Regions from separate parts of the Homo sapiens genome. Here region 2 is linked to region 1. Evidence: fine-mapped QTL for protein levels in blood plasma. A gene starts in region 1. The other region holds a variant in brackets. All regions are shown on one strand. Distances are between the middles of the regions.

Evidence for each region. PIP is the posterior inclusion probability: the model's chance that the variant is causal. The UK Biobank Pharma Proteomics Project read protein levels with antibody pairs (Olink). The fine-mapping took linkage between variants from a reference panel, not from the people measured, so its PIPs are less certain.
Region 2: its variant is fine-mapped to the plasma level of the TF protein (UK Biobank, PIP above 0.99).

Annotation. Positions count from the first base shown.
Region 1 is chr3:133,744,899-133,747,810 of GRCh38, forward strand. It overlaps TF (transferrin), which reads left to right and starts at 1,495. Exons shown (of 17, transcript NM_001063.4): 1 at 1,495-1,585. The coding sequence starts at 1,543.
Region 2 is chr3:133,769,761-133,772,672 of GRCh38, forward strand. TF (transferrin) reads left to right here. Exons shown (of 17, transcript NM_001063.4): 14 at 748-812. Among named protein-coding and RNA genes, the nearest start is that of TF, 25 kb to the left of the region's middle. The variant A/C (reference allele first, on the strand shown) is at 1,730.

The DNA of each region.
Region 1 (2,912 bases):
TGAGTCTGCAGTCATGACAGATGGAGCCTTTCAGGTGTCCTAAGGGAAGATGGGGTTCACCTCACAATGCTAAAGGTGAAAAGGGGAGTGCCGACCCTGCCCTTTGTTTTGGCATTTTTATTTCCATACTTTGTGGTTTGTATGTGCCCAGTTAAACGGATGTACAGATTAGATAATCTGGCTTTAACTCCAACCTTCACGAGATGCACACATGCCTTAAAAAGATTCTTACAAAGAAACTAGAATTAGGAGACAATTCTGACAACACAAAAACAAGTGAACAAAAATCAAATGACTGACCTGACGTGTCCACTAGGCTTGATATGAGCTTGGTCAACTAAAACATGAGACAGAATGAATGACCATCTGGTCAGGTTGGATAAGAAGTAACTTTTGGCAAAATCTCTGAAGTCTGGATTTACACTTCGTGGAAGGAATCTTGACCTTTCCCCAAGTATATTATGCCTTGAGATAATAATCCTGTATAAGGCCGCATAAGCAAAACGACATTTGAAAATGAGTTTCATCTTTAGCTCATCCTTTTACAAATTTCTATTCCTTGTGCATGATTGAAGTGTACACATTTTTTAGTTAAAATATAAGCATATAGAAGGCACAAGTTCAATATTTTTCATGATAAGGATGTGTAATTAAACTGGTTAGGAGACTCATCGACTAGAGGGGGACATGGTGGCCCCAGGCTGTAAGAACAGGCCACACCGTCCACTGGGCCGCTTGCTTTGTGCTAAGATGACACTTTGTTCTGAGCCTCACAGTGTCTTGACCATGTTCCTGGAACCTTCTTGTTGGAGGGAGTTCATCTTCCCCTATGACTCTGTCCCTAGTCTAAGGTGTCCCACAGGAAGCTTGAGGGCGGGAAGTTTTCCAGCCCAGGAGCCTGAGCTCAGCGGGGCAGGAAGAGGGAGCAGCTCCTCCGTGGGGGACCTTTGAGAGCCCAGGAGCAGGATTTCGAGGGACACCTGGTGGGGAGCAAAAGGTGCTGAGTCTGTCTTTGACCTTGAGCCCAGCTTGTTTCTCCTGCATCCTCCCCCAAAAGGGGCTTTGCCTGTCATTCTGCAGTTCTAGTGTGGGGTCTGGGCGCAGTTCTTTTCCCTCTCCAGCCTCGGAGTCTTCCTCTGTGGACTGCGCAGATAGGACTGGTGGCACGGACCAGCTCTGCAGCCCTGGAGTCAGGAGCAGAGCCCCCCGGCTCCCAGCCCGCCGTAGCCGCTCCTGGCACCGAGCGAGCCGCGATGACAATGGCTGCATTGTGCTTCATGTCCCTTCCCATCAACATTTCTGTGCTGGACTCCTTCCACTCGCGGGTCGTCTCCAGAGCTCAGAAAATGAGGTGATCAGTGGGACGAGTAAGGAAGGGGGGTTGGGAGAGGGGCGATTGGGCAACCCGGCTGCACAAACACGGGAGGTCAAAGATTGCGCCCAGCCCGCCCAGGCCGGGAATGGAATAAAGGGACGCGGGGCGCCGGAGGCTGCACAGAAGCGAGTCCGACTGTGCTCGCTGCTCAGCGCCGCACCCGGAAGATGAGGCTCGCCGTGGGAGCCCTGCTGGTCTGCGCCGTCCTGGGTGAGTGCGGGCACGGGGTAGCACCGCAGAGTCGCTGGCCCGCGCGTTCCCTGCAACCCGGGCGGCCACCGCGCAGCCTGCATGCACTCCGCGCTCAGGCTGGAAGCCTGGGTGTCTGGGTGCCTTTCCATTGCCTCTCTACGCCCCACCCCTGGCCTTTGCTTGGGCTTCTAGACACCTTTCACTGCACTCACTGTCTTCTCCCCCTCCTCCTCTTTGTCCAGTAAATCTTGCAGCAGTGAAATACAATAAATCAGAGCACGTCTAACCAGGTTATCAAAACCCTTTGCTGCTGCCTCTTGTCAAGTCCGAACTCCTTAGCATGGCATTCAAGGCCTCCCGGGTCTGACCATTCCCCTTTCAGAGGCTGATGTCCCCTGGGTGCCCTGGGAGCTGTAGATGTCCTGCCAAGGAAGCGGTGCCATCGAGCGGTCAGAGCATGGGGTTTGAAGCCAGACTTCTTGGATCCAAGTCCTGGCCGGCTCCTCACCAGGGAGGGGGTCATCACAGCACTTGCCTGGGAGGGTCAAATGAGGGTCAGCGAGGTGGCAGATGCTGAGTACCAGTGGCAGATGTTGCACACATCCTGCTATGGGGCAGTGGCTGACGCCACACTCCCCGACCTCCTGAGGTGGGGCCCCCTTCATACTCTAACTTCTGCCTGCCATTCATGGGGCATTTGTCACACTGTTGGGGCTTCCACGTTTAGTTTTCTCTCCCCATAAGCTAGCAATTCCTTGAGAGAGGACCCCACGTTACTTGCCTTTATCCCCGCACAGAGCACTTCACAGGCTGTGCAAGGTAATGCTCCACTGAGGACACATTCTCGCCTATGGGAACTCTGGAGGCAGGGCTTTGTGGAGGGGCTGCCACAGGCTTATGTTGCCTCCTAGGATTTCCCATGGGCCAAGAGGGAAAATGGGGGTCGCTGGGGTGGCCATCCCTGGTGGCCCCTCCTCATGCATCCTGGAGAGCTGTGGGCCTCCTCTCCACAGGCTTTGTGGATCTTCTTCAGAGCCAGTGAGTCAGCCTTGCTGTGGTGGCCCACAAGGAGTGGAGATGACAGAGGGCCTTGGGGACAGGGCAAAAGCTCATGTGATAGGGATGCTGTCTCTGCAACCACATGGATTTTAATAGTTACCCATGGCTGGCTTCAGCTTTTTTTGTGAATGGCAGCCAAAAAGTGTGGTGAAAATGGAGGGATAGTTCAGTGGAGACAGAGGGGAGACTGTTGAATTTGTGGAGTTTTTAGTTCTTCCTAAACAGAGAGCAACAGACAAGAGTTACAGACAAATTAATTCTTTTCGTTAATTTACCCTCAACTACT
Region 2 (2,912 bases), 25 kb after region 1:
AGATTTTGAAGTACACACTAGTTCATCATCTGTGTGGTATGCCCTTTCAAAGGACTGGAAGACAGTCAAAATTAAAATTAGAACCCTACTAACCAGAGTTTATTTTGTTATTATTTCTTTTCTGAAACTTCTTGGGGACTTGTAGCTCAGAGCTGTGTTACAACCCCCATTACCACACCCAGAGATATGTGGCCTGGGAGTTAGTAGAGTCAGGTGCCTTTATGCCATGTTTTGCCATATTCTCTGCATTTCTCAAAAACAAAAACAAAAAAACCCACAACATAGCAAATGCTCCATAAATGTTAAAATTCTTTTTCAAAGGAATGAAGGACAGCACAAATTGCAATTTGTGATGGAGTTTCAGTCTCTCACAAATGTTGCCTAGACATTCGCCTTGTATGAGAACCTGAAGGAACTGAGTTTTTCATTCATATGCTGGGGGAGGCATCACCTCACTGAAAATCAATTCCCTACTATCCTTGTTGATGTCAGGGAAATTATGTCATCTCTCAGAGAAACAGTACAAAAAATTAAGATTTAGTATGTGGAACTGAGATTGTAAAACTACAATCAATTCAGAGTGTTTTGTTTTTGTTCTCTTTATTCCTTACATTGCTTACTGTTAGAATGGAAGTTACAGTTGCTGTTTTCAGATGGCTGTCCTGAATCTATAAGGTAGCCCCCTGAATGACAGATAAGTCACTCTGACCGCCTTTTTTTTTCTCTCCCACTTCTGGACCTCTGCAGGTGTCTGGTTGAGAAGGGAGATGTGGCCTTTGTGAAACACCAGACTGTCCCACAGAACACTGGGGGTAAGTGCACCTGCTCCTCTGTCCCCCTAGATCACTAGATCCTGGTCACTGGTATTCACTTGTATTCAGGGATGCCTTTGTGGAAGTATTATGTACACTGTCAGACTTCAAAGCTCTGATTCTCAGTCTGTCTGCTCAGTGAAGAGAGACATGTTCACCTGAGTGCGCAGAATGATCAGGATTATGGGGCCCCCAATGGCCCTAAATCCTCCCCAACACACACTCCCACAGCTGCAAGCCTTGTGCTCCTTTCCCCTAAATACTTCAGTGCCTATTTCCTAAGAATAAGACAATCTCTTGCATACCCACAGTATGATTACCAAGATCAGGATCTTTTACATTATGTGGATTTAATACTCGTCACGTCCACAGTCCACATTTAACTGTTGTCAGTTATCCCAGTAATGCCTTTTATAGCTATTTACTGTACTTCTGGGTTGTGTCCATTGAGAAGGCCTAGAGGCAATGGCATACCAGCAGGAGTAAGCACCAAGATATTGGCTTGTAAGTACTCTTCTTTACTAAAAGGAACCAGAACTCCTTGGAAAAATAGCTGACTTCAGGGCTGGGGCAGGAAAAATAGATGCTGAGCCTAGAACAACACACTGAAGTGCTCAAACAGTGATGGGACACTCAAAGCATACAAGAACCAATTTGAAGGATCTCCTGTTGCCAAGTCTGGGAATTTTGAGCATTAAAATAAATAATGATAGCAGTAAGGGATAATAGCCCATTGAAAGAAATAAGAATGCATGAGGCAATACTGATTAAACAAATGAAGAAGGGAAAACTAATCAATGTGGAAGGAATGATAGAGTTAGAAAACTATCACTTGGCAACCAATATATTGATAACTGATTCAAGCAAGAATCAATGGGTGTTAAGCCGGGCGCAGTGGCTCACGCCTGTAATCCCAG[A/C]ACTTTGGGAGGCCGAGGCGGGTGGATCATGAGGTCAGGAGATCGAGACCATCCTGGCCAACAAGGTGAAACCCCGTCTCTACTAAAAATACAAAAAATTAGCCGGGCGCGGTGGTGGGCGCCTGTAGTCCCAGCTACTCGGGAGGCTGAGGCAGGAGAATGGCGTGAACCTGGGAAGCGGAGCTTGCAGTGAGCCGAGATTGCGCCACTGCAGTCCGCAGTCCGGCCTGGGCGACAGAGCGAGACTCCGTCTCAAAAAAAAAAAAAAAAAAAAAAAGAATCAATGGGTGTTAACTTGTGGGTGAACGTTGGACAGCCATAATATTAATAAAAACAAACAAAACAAAGCAAAACAAACATTGGCCAGACTGAGCACTCCACACCTGACCCCTCAGTATCACTAAGTGCTAGCAGAGCCCACTGGAATTCAAGCTGTGAATACTTCCCTGCCTTCTCTCATGTTCATTCCCCAACTCCTCACTTTTCCTGGGCAACTCATCCAGAATGAACCGGCTCAGCACCAGCCCCTCCAGGAAGCCTTCCCAGATGGCATACCCTGTCCTACAAGAAGACTCCTCTGTTCATATTGCCATTATGATTGAATTCACCACACTCTGTAATACACTTTGGCTACAGAAACTCTTTGAGCTCTTTTTCTTCATCTTATATTCCCAGAACCTAGTGTAGCACATAGTACACAGCAGTTGCTAAGAATTTGTTTGCAGAAATATTGGGTTGACTAATTTTCCTTTCTTCCCTCGTATTATTGCTTTTTCCTTTAAGAGAGTGTTACCCTAAGCTTGGCTCTTTGCCACCCTTGATTTCTTTTGGTACTTTTCTGAGTAGAGCTCCCTTCTTTAAGCTTTGACTCTCTTACTCTTTGCAATGACTCAAAAATTCTTCCCTCCTGCATAGAATTAAGATAGGAGGCCTGACATCCAATCTCAATTCCATTCCAGTCTATTTCCCAAGGTGTCACTTTTATGTAGAGAGTACATTGGCATTGCAATTGTATTTTTTTACGTGTGTATATGGATGTCCTCATATATTGTAGTTGTATATATACAATCCATATACAACTCAACTGTCCTCATCTTTCTGTCAACGTTCCCTCCTCTTCTCCCAGCCTCTATCCTTATAGAGAATCCTGCTATACTCCCTGCCCATCAGGCCTAGATTAAGT